Linked DNA regions of Homo sapiens: all the other regions are linked to region 1. Evidence: fine-mapped expression QTL. A gene starts in region 1. Each other region holds a variant in brackets. All regions are shown on one strand. Distances are from middle to middle. Region 1 holds the start of ADAMTSL4-AS2 (ADAMTSL4 antisense RNA 2). Region 2 overlaps PRUNE1 (prune exopolyphosphatase 1). Region 3 has its middle 5.5 kb from the start of HORMAD1. Region 4 holds the start of FALEC (focally amplified lncRNA regulator of ECM1).

What was found.
Region 2: its variant is fine-mapped to the expression of ADAMTSL4-AS2 in whole blood (INTERVAL, PIP above 0.99).
Region 3: its variant is fine-mapped to the expression of ADAMTSL4-AS2 in whole blood (INTERVAL, PIP above 0.99).
Region 4: its variant is fine-mapped to the expression of ADAMTSL4-AS2 in pancreas (GTEx, PIP 0.95).

What each region holds. Positions count from the first base shown.
Region 1 is chr1:150,556,148-150,558,829 of GRCh38, reverse strand. It overlaps ADAMTSL4-AS2 (ADAMTSL4 antisense RNA 2), which reads left to right and starts at 1,106. Exons shown (of 6, transcript NR_187269.1): 1 at 1,106-1,137; 2 at 2,146-2,222; 3 at 2,613-2,682. It overlaps ADAMTSL4 (ADAMTS like 4), which reads right to left. Exons shown (of 19, transcript NM_019032.6): 9 at 2,464-2,668; 10 at 2,037-2,209; 11 at 1,780-1,891; 12 at 1,495-1,680; 13 at 1,207-1,336; 14 at 681-885; 15 at 181-357.
Region 2 is chr1:151,028,250-151,030,931 of GRCh38, reverse strand. It overlaps PRUNE1 (prune exopolyphosphatase 1), which reads right to left. Exons shown (of 8, transcript NM_021222.3): 7 at 1,988-2,146. Among named protein-coding and RNA genes, the nearest start is that of BNIPL, 7.0 kb to the left of the region's middle. The variant G/A (reference allele first, on the strand shown) is at 1,274.
Region 3 is chr1:150,725,070-150,727,751 of GRCh38, reverse strand. No RefSeq gene overlaps it. Among named protein-coding and RNA genes, the nearest start is that of HORMAD1, 5.5 kb to the right of the region's middle. The variant G/TG (reference allele first, on the strand shown) is at 1,093.
Region 4 is chr1:150,514,906-150,517,587 of GRCh38, reverse strand. It overlaps FALEC (focally amplified lncRNA regulator of ECM1), which reads right to left and starts at 1,836. Exons shown (of 6, transcript NR_186305.1): 1 at 1,526-1,836. RefSeq lists a silencer at 1,642-2,011 and enhancers at 2,102-2,251, 2,322-2,391. The variant C/A (reference allele first, on the strand shown) is at 1,330.

The DNA.
Region 1 (2,682 bases):
GACGAGGAATCCTAGCCGGGCCCCTCATGGAAGTTGTTCTCACTTATCTCTGAGTTCCCAGGGTCAGGCATATAGCAGGCGCTTGATCAATACAAGTTTATTGAGCTATGCTGGAAAGGCTGAGGTGTCCTGGGCGTGGTTACCCAGGATGCAGGATATGGCTGGGGGTTCCGGGCTCACCTTGGAGCTCCAGTCGCTGTGGAACCAGGCAGTAGTACAGGGCCCCATGTCACAGGCCTCTCTGCTGGGGGGCTGCGGGGGGCCTGACGCACACTCCTGCTCGCTCACTTCATCACCATTGTTCCCAACACAGCGAACCTGCCGGCTTCTCTGGCCCCGGCCGCACCGCACGGAGCACTGAGGGGGCGAGGGGAATCCAGGGAGCTGGGCTTCCCAGACCTTCTCAGCCAGCTTCCAGCTCTAGGCTTCAGAACCAGGCTCTGCCTTCGATCCCCAGCCCAGCAGTCACATGGCTTCGTGGGCTGAGGAGGAGGCTGAGCCCTAGGGCCCTGGGCCCCCAGTCCCTGGTTCAGTCCCTTATCTGACTTCTATATTGGGGGTCCATATGAAACCCTGTTTGTAAATAGTTTCTGCTGATGAAAAAGAAGTTGAAAAACCACTGCTGTTGTTCACCTGTGCCCATTCCCCTCCCCAGCACCTCCTTGCCTGGGCAAACTCACCTGGCTCCAAGGAGAGCCAACTTCCCAATGGCCACAGAGGCGCAGCTGGCAAGACTGGGTGATGTTGGGCCGGGGGAGATGTCCACAGCGCTCCGGGGGCACCGAGGAGCCACCCCCCCCAAATTCCTGCCGGCACTGCAGCTGGCGGTGCTGGGTGCCGGGGCCACAGGAGCGGCTGCAGGATGTCCACTCGCCAGCCTCCCAGCTGCAGGCACCAGCAGGGCAGGGAAGAGGCGGAGACATAGATGAGATGTGTGGGGCTGCCGTGGCAGCAGAGATGGAAGACACACTGGACGTGGGGGCCTCAGAGGAGAGTGGGCACGTTTGGCGTTTGGAGTCTGGGTTCCTGGGGGGCTCAGCCTGCCATGGCTTTCTTGCTGCCTACCGAATGTCTGCCTTTCTAATCTAATGTTGTCTCTCTGCAGCCAGGAGATGTTGCGTTGAGTGCAGAGTTCAGGTAAGATTCTGGGGGCAACTGCTGTGTTTCCAGTACCCTAACCCTCCCCGTGGGCTCCCCCATACTCACTATGGGGGGCATGGGGTGCCGTGGCAGGGTTCAGGGGAGGCTGGGGGCCTGGCACCCGCGGCACAGCTGCGTTCATCCAGTTCCTCTCCCGACTCACGGGAGATGCAGAGGAAAATGGGGCGCCAGACACCTGAGTGGGTGAGAAGGCAGCCAGGGAGGCAGGAGGCTAGAGCCCAAGCTCAGTGGTGTCCCAGACGCAGGGTCGGGCGTGGCCCCACAATCCAGGATGCGGGAGTGTCAGTTGGGGGGTTTGGACCGAGATGCGGGGAACGCACTGTGATGTCTCACCTTTCCCGCAGGACGCTGAGCATGCAGAGTGTCCCACTCGTTTCCAGTACGCAGCTGGAGACCCCAGGGGTGTCCTGGGATGGGGCGGGGCGGGCATCTGGGGGATCCGCACCTGACGCTGGAGGGTGCCTGGGGTCCGGGCTGGGCGGGGTGCCGGAGCAAGTGGGGGCTCCACCCTCAGAATCTCTGTGCAGGGGAGCAGGCGAATCAGATGCCACCCCACTGCCCCGAGCCAGCCCTGCAGCCTCTCCCTCCTCCTTCCAAGTGCAGGGGTCAGAGTCTTACCCGGCTGAAGCTGGGGGACAGGGGGCTCTGGGGTGGGGTTCTCAAGGATTGGAGGAGGTGAAGAGATGACATACTGATAAAAAACGCCTGGGTTTTCCTCCTGAAAGATCATCTGGGGAGAAGAGAAGATAATGAATATGTGGGGGTGGCCAGAAGAGGATGCCACCAGCTCTCTCTCCCATCTTGACAACCACAGCTCTGCCCAGAGGGAACAGCCTCCCTCCCCAGCATTCAGCTGCCCCTGGCCCCAGGCTCACATAGACATCCACAGGCTGGGTGGTGGGGCCTTCAGCCGACAGACTCTCCCCTTTGCCCTCCTCCCTGGGAGGACGGTTATATCGAAAGACGGTCCCGCCGGCCCTGTAGGACCCAGGGGGATCCACAGCCCAGTTCCCATTGATGATGGACCGGCCCCCAGGGCCACGAAGTGCTGCGGGTCAGAGGTGAGAGATCGGGAAATTCCAGGGTGATAATACCTTCCTCCTCCCACACCGTGTCCTTAGCCTATAGAAGCTCCCACCAGAACCTAAGATCCCCCCAAGCCCTCTCAGCTTCCTCACTCCTTCCACGAGGGGAGGGGCTAGGCCCTGGACTTCCCCCTGTTTGGCTTGCTCACTGCTCTGAGTAGGGGTATGGAGGGCCGAACAGAGACGGAAGTGGAAGGGGAGGCAGCTGGGTGCTCACCCAGGTAGTTGGAGCTAGGCCGGAGCTGGGCAATCTGGAGCCGCAAGGCTCCCGCTGGAATCCACAAGATCTTCTGATAGCCCAGGGGGCCCCCTCGGTCAGTGAGGTTCCCCGAAACAAGGCGACAGGTAGAATCATCACCCCCACAGACTCCACAGCCATCAGGACGCCTGCCAGAGCCAAGGATCCCATCACAGCCGGGGCTCTGGAGAGAGTGAG
Region 2 (2,682 bases), 470 kb before region 1:
AATGATCATAGCAGAATTAGCAGTAGGTACTATTATGCCATTTCCAGATGCAGAAGTCAACTGACTTGCCTTAGCTCAAAGAGTGAGTAAGAGGCAAACCTAGAACAGAAAAGCACATCTACCTGACTTTAAAAACTGCAGTTCTTGGCCAGGTGCAGTGGCTCAGGCTTGTAATTCCAGCACTTCGGAAGGCCAAGGCAGGTGGATCACTTGAGGTCAGGAGTTCGAGACCTGCCTGGCTAACATGGTGAAACCCCATCTCTACTAAAAATACAAAAATTAGTCAGGCATGGTGGCAGGCGCCTGTAGTCCCAGCTACAGGCTGAGGTGGGAGAACTGACTGAACCTGGGAGGTGGCGGTTGCAGTGAGCCAAGATCACACCACTGTACTCAAGCCTGGGCGACAGAGTGAGACTCCATCTTAAAAAACAAACAAACAGACAAAACTGCAGTTCTTTTCATAATGACGAACTACCTTACACTGAATGAAATCAGATTTGCTTCCTGGGGAGAAGGCAAAGGCAAAGGGGGGCGGGAAAGGACAGACATACCTTCTATGAGAGCAAAGGATTATCTGGCTGTATTCTGTCTTTAGCAGTCCTCACAGAGCCTAGGCAACCCTCAGAATCCCTGAACTGCCTTAAGCCCACCTTTTTTTTTTTTTTTTTTGGAGACGGAGTCTTGCTCTGTTGGCAGGATGGAGTACAGTGGCGCAATCTCGGCTCACTGCAACCTCTGCTTGCCGAGGTTCAAGAGATTCTCCTGCCTCAGCCTCCTGAGTAGCTGGGACTATAGGCACGCACCACCACGCCCAGCTAATTTCCGTATTTTTAAAAGAGATGGGGTTTCACCATGTTGGCCAGGATGGTCTTGATCTCTTGCTCTCGTGATCTGCCCGCCTCAGCTTCCCAAAGTGCTGGGATTACAGGTGTGAGCCACCGCACCCAGCCTTAAGCCCACTTTTAAATTCTTCCCTAGGCTAATCAGTAACCAGCAGAGGAACAGAAGGGGGAGGAAGTAGGAAAGATAGCCAAATCTGGATCTAGATCACTTCTTTACAGAGTTTGCACTATACAGAATAATTAATCCCTGCATAGTAAGTAGCAGAAAAGGTCTCTCGTATTTCTAATTTTCAAGGCAACAGCATAATTCCAGGGGTGAGGAATTAATGATTAAACCAAGAATAGAGTTTTTGTTTTTTTTTTTCCCCAACAGAGATGAGGTCTTGCTATCTTTGCCCAGGCTGGACTCAAACTTTCCAGCTCGGCTGGGC[G/A]CGGTGGCTCACGCCTGTAATCCCAGCACTTTGGGAGGCCAAGGCGGGCGGATCACGAGGTCAGGAGATCGAGACTATCCTGGCTAACACGGTGAAACCCCGTCTCTACTAAAAATACAAAAAATTAGCCGGGCGTGGTGGCGGGCGCCTGTAGTCCCAGCTACTCGGGAGGCTGAGGCAGGACAATGGCGTTAACCCAGGAGGCAGAGCTTGCAGTGAGCCGAGATTGTGCCACTGCACCCCAGCCTGGGCAACAGCACAAGACTGTCTCAAAAAAAAAAAAAAAAAAAAAACTTTCCAGCTTAAGCAATCCTTCTGCATCAGCCTCCCGAGTTGCTGGGACTACAGGCACGTGCCACTGTCCCTAGCTCAAGAAGGGAATTTTAACTCCGGATTTATAACATTTCCTTCTAACTAGATTTCGTTCTTTCAAAGTAGGAATTGAATCTCTAGTTCTCTTTGGAATTCCCCCTTTCTCAACAATGCTATGATTAAGGATGTTCATTAAAAAAAAAAAAAGGATATTCATATAGAGAGAGAATGGGAAAAAGCAGAAAGGGGAGGAAACAGGTCCAGAAACAGGTCAAGGGACCTCATGTAAGTACATTAATATAAGAACCTAAGAGAGGTCCTTATAGGACAGCTGTAGAGCACAGAGGTACATACAGGCAGACTCTGTAAGGCTCTTAGGTTGGAGAAGGGACACAGACTCACCGTTGTTTGGAGTGCCACATGGGGACAGAAAATAGCCAACTGCCGCACTGGCTCATTGTGAGTGTTGAAAAAGATAGTCATGGCAACCAGGACATCATAGCTGTGAGCCTGGCAGAAAGCATGGAGATCTGCAAGGAGGTTAGACCTCTGCAGAAAGGCCTGAAAGGGAAGAAACGGAGAGGGATGAAGGACTTTCTCATCATCATCAATAAAACATCCTTGGGCCGGGCACGGTCGCTTACGCCTATAATCCTAGCACTTTGGGAGGCCGAGGCAGGTGATCACTTGAGGTCAGGAGTTCGAGACCAGCCTAGCCAACATGGTGAAACCCTGTCTCTGGTAAAAATACAAAAATTAGCCGGGCATGGGGGCATATGCCTGTAATCCCAGCTACTCAGGAGGCTGAGGCAGGAGAATCGCTTGAACCAGGGAGGCGGAAGTTGCAGTGAGCTGAGATTGCGCCATTGCACTCCAGCCTGGGGGACAAGAGCGAAACTCCGTCTCAAAAAACAAAAACAAAACAAAACAAAACAAAAAATTAGCTGGGCATGCCGGCACGCACCAGTAATCCCAGCTACTAGGGAGGCTGAGGCAGGAGAATTACTTGAACCCGGGAGGCAGAGGTTGCAGTGAGCTGAGATCATGCCATTCCACTCCATCCTGGGCAACAGAATAAGACTCAGGCTCAAAACAAA
Region 3 (2,682 bases), 170 kb before region 1:
TGCAAGATGACTTGAAGAAAATTTTTTTAAAAGCCAGGTGCAGTGGCTCACACCTGTAATCCCAGCACTGTGGGAGGCTGAGGTGGGAGGATCGCTTGAGCCAGAAGTTCAAGAGGCTGGTCTCAAACTCCTGGGCGCAAGTGATCCTCCTGCCTCTTGTTATGAGCACATAAAAAGATCTCCATCTCTACAAAAAATAAAAAAGTTAGCCAGGTGTGGTGGTATGTGCCTATAGTCCCAGCTACCAGGGGAAAGGCTGAGGTGGGAGGATCACTTGAGCCCAGGAGATTGAGGCTGCAGTGAGCCATGATAGCGCCATTGCACTCCAGCCTGGGTGACCTTGTTTCAAAATAAATAAATTGGCAAATAATAAAATAAATAAAATTTTAAAATGAGACAACCTAGGCCGGGCGTGGTGGCTTACGCCTGTAATCCCAGCACTTTGGGAGGCCGAGGCAGGCAGATCACTTGAGGTCAGGAGTTGGAGACCAGCCTGGCCAACACAGTGAAACCCCGCCTCTACTAAAAATACAAAAATTAGCTGGGCATGGTGGTGGGTGCCTGTAATCCCAGCTACTTGAGAGGCTGAGACAGGAGAATTGCTTGAACTCAGGAGGTGGAGGTTGCAGTGAGCCGAGATCATGCCATTGCACTCCAGCCTGGGCAACAAGAACGAAACTCTGTCTCAAGAAAAAAAAAGAGACAATCTAAAAGATATTCTAGTAGTCTATATGTGTGGTGATAAAGCCCTAAACTAAATACATCATTTCTGAAAACAGCAAAAAAATAAAAAATAAAGCAAATCTGGGAGCCATCACAGAGTAAAAGTTGACAGAATTTTAAACTGTATAATAAAAGTAAAGAAACGGTGCTTGCTTTGGCAGCACATATACTCAAATTTGAATGATACAGAGAAGATTAGCCAAAAAATTTGAAAAATTATATTAAAAAAAGAAACAAGAAGATTTAAATATTCCAGAACTAGGCATCCATGAGACAATGCCATTAAAACATATAACATAAATGTGACAGATACTTAGTATTTCCTTTCTCTTTTCTTTTTTCCTTTCTTATCTTTTTTTTTTTTTTTTT[G/TG]AGACAGGGTCTCACTCTGTCACTCAGGCTGGAGTGCAGTGATGCCATCACTGCTCACTGCAGCCTTGAACTCCTGAACTTAAGCTATTTTCTCACCTCACACACCTTCCCCACCCCTCCAGTAGCTGGGACTAGAGGTGCAAGCCACCATTTCTGGCTTATTTGTGTGTGTGTGTGTGTGTGTGTGTGTGTGTGTGTGTGTGTGTGTGTGTAGAGATGGGAGTCTCATTATGTTGCCCAGGCTGGTCTCCAACTCTTGGCCTCAAGTGATCCTCCCACTTTGGTCTCCCAAAGTACTGGGATTACAGGCATAAGACTTACTATTTCTTTGAATCAAATTATTATTTTTTGACTCTTCTCTTCTAGATGAGAATCTTGATGATGCTTCAAGTATGCATACTCTAAGTTACCAGAAAGACTATAAATCAGAACATGTAATAAAGGGGGCCGGGCGTGGTGGCTCATGCCTGTAATCCCAGCACTTTGGGAGGCCAAGGCAAGCCGATCACCTGAGGTCAGGAGTTCGAGGCTAGCCTGGCCAACATGGCAAAATGCCACCTTTACTAAAAATACAAAAATTAGCCTGGCGTGGTGGTGGACGCCTGTAACCCCAGTTACTTCAGAGGCTGAGGCAGGAGAATTGCTTGAACCCAGGAAGGGGAGGTTGCAGTGAGTCGAGATCACGCCACTGCATTCCAGTCTGGGTGACAGAGCAAGACTCTGTCTCAAAAAAAATGAAAAAAAATGAAAATAGGCCTGGCATAGTAGTTCATGCCTGAAACACTTTGGGAGGCTAAGGCAGGAGTATTACTTGAGGCCAGTAGTTCAAGATCAGTCTACACAACATAGCAAGACCCTGACTCTACAAAAAAATTAAAAAGTAGCCGAGAGTTGTGGCACACACCTGCGGTCCTAGTTGTTACAGAGGCTGAGGAGGGAGGATTGCTTGAGCCAGGAGTTTGAGGCTGCAGTGAGGTATGATTGCATCACTGCACTCCAGCCTGGGAGACTGAAAGAGACCTTGCCTCTAAAGAAAAAAAAGTGGCTGGGCACAGTGGCTCATGCCTGTAATCCCAGCATTTTGGGAGTCCAAGGTGGGCAAATCACCTGAGGTCAGGAGTTCAAGACCAGTCTGGCCAACATGGTGAAACCCCATCTCTACTAAAAATACAAAAATTAGTTGGATGTGGTGGTGCGTGCCTGTGATCCCAGCTACTGGGGAGGCTGAGGCAGGAGAATCCCTTGAACCCAGGAGGTGGAGGTTGCAGTGAGCCAAGATTATGCCACTGCACTCCAGCTTGGGCAAAAGAGTGAGACTCCGTCTCAAAAAACAACAACAACAACAACAACAAAAAAAAACACACAAAACAGTGACTTAATTATAATTCAAAATAATTATTAGACCAAGATTTTCACTATTTTTAACCCTAATAACAAGGTTCTAGTCTTCATTTCTCTCCTAGTTGAATGACTTTGGGCAAATCTTTTCATATCTAGTGGCTGTTTTCTCCTTTGTAATGAAGATATGTCAAAGTTTATGAGTACAGGCTTATCTTGTTTTATTGTGCTTTGCTTTATTGTGCTTTGCAG
Region 4 (2,682 bases), 41 kb after region 1:
CTTTTATAAGAGCACTAATCCCATTTATGAGGGCTCCACCCTCATGACCTAATTACCTCCCAAAGGCCCCACCTCCTAATACCATCACACTGGGGGCTAGGATTTCAACAAATGCATTTGGGGGTACACAAACATTCAGTCTGTAACACTTACCTTAGTTACCACAGCCTCAAACTTGGTAGTCACCCTAGACACCAGCAAACAGGTTCTCTCAACCCTATCTCCTGAAGAGCTTTTAAAAAAAGTCCCCTCCCTCACCATGCCCTCAACCTTTTTTTTTTTTTTTTTTTTGAGACGGAGTCTGGCTCTGTCACCCAGGCTGGAGTGCAATGGCACAATCTTGGCTCACTACAACCTCTGCCTCCTGGGTTCAAGCAATTCTTCTGCCTCAGCCTCCCAAGTAGCTGGGATTAGAGGCATGCGCCATCATGCCTGGCTAATTTTGTATTTTTAGTAGGGACGGCTTTCACCATGTTGGTCAGGCTGGTCTCGAACTCCTGACCTCGGTTGATCCACTGGCCTCGACCTCCCAAAGTGCTGGGATTACAGGTGTGAGCCACCGCGCCTGGCTAGGTATATTTAAATATACCACACTTTCTGTGTTATTTCCTCTTCCTGGAAGATCTCCCTGAAGGCCAGGCTAGGTGGCTGTCTCAGAATTCTGAGAATATTTCTAACATTAGATGTTCAAGTCTCCACAGACGCTAAAGTCCCTGAAGGTGGTGTTGTAGTCTTCGTTATAGCCAGAGTACTTTTAGCACTCTGCCTAACACAAAAAGGACTGTTTACTTTAGCTGAACTTTGCATACATTCAATGCTTTGTATATCCTTCCCTTTCAACAAAACCCTACTCAAGCTTGAATTCTGTGAAGCTTTCCCTGGCCTCTCCAATAATTAGGAGCTCTGACTCCTTTACTTTACTCACCGCCCCTGAATTGAGCAAGTTATATTTTAATAGTGTATACAACGAATTGCAGTGAATGTTAACACGTTCACCTTTTATTGCTAACAGCAATGCTACCCGTGCTTCCAGGCTCTATCCAAACTCACTGCTTCCAGATAATAGCTGGCTGGTCCCTAGGGAGAATTCTTTAACTCTCAGCATTTGATGCTCAATTCAGTACCTCCTCATATTCAGCACTGTAGCTTACAAGTGCTCTCCGGGTTCCCTTCCTCTCCTCCCCGACAGACTAAACTGCTAGGGTTTGGGACCGCAGTCCTCCTCTCCTCTGACTCCCACCTCTCTGCAGCATTTGGCGCTGCACTTTGCAAACGCAGCTCTAAAGCATCTCCGGGAAGCTCCTGCACAGACCAAAGCCCCCCCGCTCC[C/A]TTTTTTTTTTTGAGACAGAGTCTCCTCTCTCGCCCAGGCTGGAGTGCGGTGGCGCGATCTTACTGCAGCCTCCGCCTCCCGGGTTCAAGCAATTCTCTGCCTCAGCCTCCCGAGTAGCTGGGATTATAGGCGCCCGCCACCACGCCCTGCTAATTTTTTTTTTTTTTTGTATTTTTAGTACAGACGGGGTTTCACCTTCTTGGCCAGGCTGGTCTTGAACTCCTGACCTCGTGATCCACCGCCTCGGCCTCCCAAAGTGCTGGGATTCCAGGCATGAGCCACCGCGCCCGGCCCAAAGCCCTTTAAAGACAAGTCTCCGCTTGCGGATTCGCCCGCCAGGTGACAAGGCTTCGTGGGCCAGGACTCCGCCCGCTCCCCGTGGGCTGGGGCGACCCAGGCCAGGAGGGTACACGTGGGACCGGGGGGTAGGGGAATTGCTGGGCCGGCCTTTTCCCCCTGCCTCCCCCGGTTCCTCTGTCCTGGAGGCCGTAGGAGATGCGCAGGACGCCCGCACATGCGCAGTGTCACTCTCGAGCTCCAGACTCGAGCGCGGCGGGCAGGAGGCCCAGGCGGCCCCGGGCTCCCGAGACTGGGCTGCCGGCTCAGGGGCGGGGCACAGCGCTGCCCTCGCCCGCTCATTGGCTCGCGTGCTGACGGACAGGTGGGGCGGACAGCCGGCGAAAGATCTGAGGAGCCGCTGGACTGGAAACTGCTACTGGGCTAAAAATACTTAAGTAAATAAATGAAAGCCTGTGGAGGAGGAGAGGAAGGAGAGGCGGGCGTGGGTTTGGGAGCAACTGAGGCTCCGCTTGCCCCTGGCTGGCGCAGGATGATGGTTCTTGGTTCACTCTCTCCGTCTCCGCTAGAACTGGAGCGGAGAAGTCTGCTTTCTGGAAGGTCGTCCTGGCGGCGGAGTCACACAGGACTTGTTCCCCTGGGACTCTTCATTCCGAGTCTTCATTCCGATTCTTTCAGATCCAGCCTTGAGGCCTCGGGTTCCTGGGAGCAGCTTTGTAGGGCTTGAGAGTCCTAGTCACCGCCACCCTCGGGTCCAGCTCAGGTTGGGGGCTACAGCTCCGTCCCTCCGGCACTTGGGACGACACTCTTTGAACTGGCCTCCCAGCGTCCCGCCTTGCTGGCTGCCGACTAAACTTTTTTTTTTCTTTTTGAGACTGGGTCTCGCAGGTTGAAGTGCAGTGCCGAGACCATAGCTCTTTGGGTGGCTGGGATTACAGGCGCGCGCCACCTCCCCGGCTCTCCGACTAGACATTATTTTATTTTATTTTATTTTTGAGGCACAGTCTCGCTGTGTCGGCCAGGCTGAGTGCAGTGGTGCGATACTGGCTCACTGC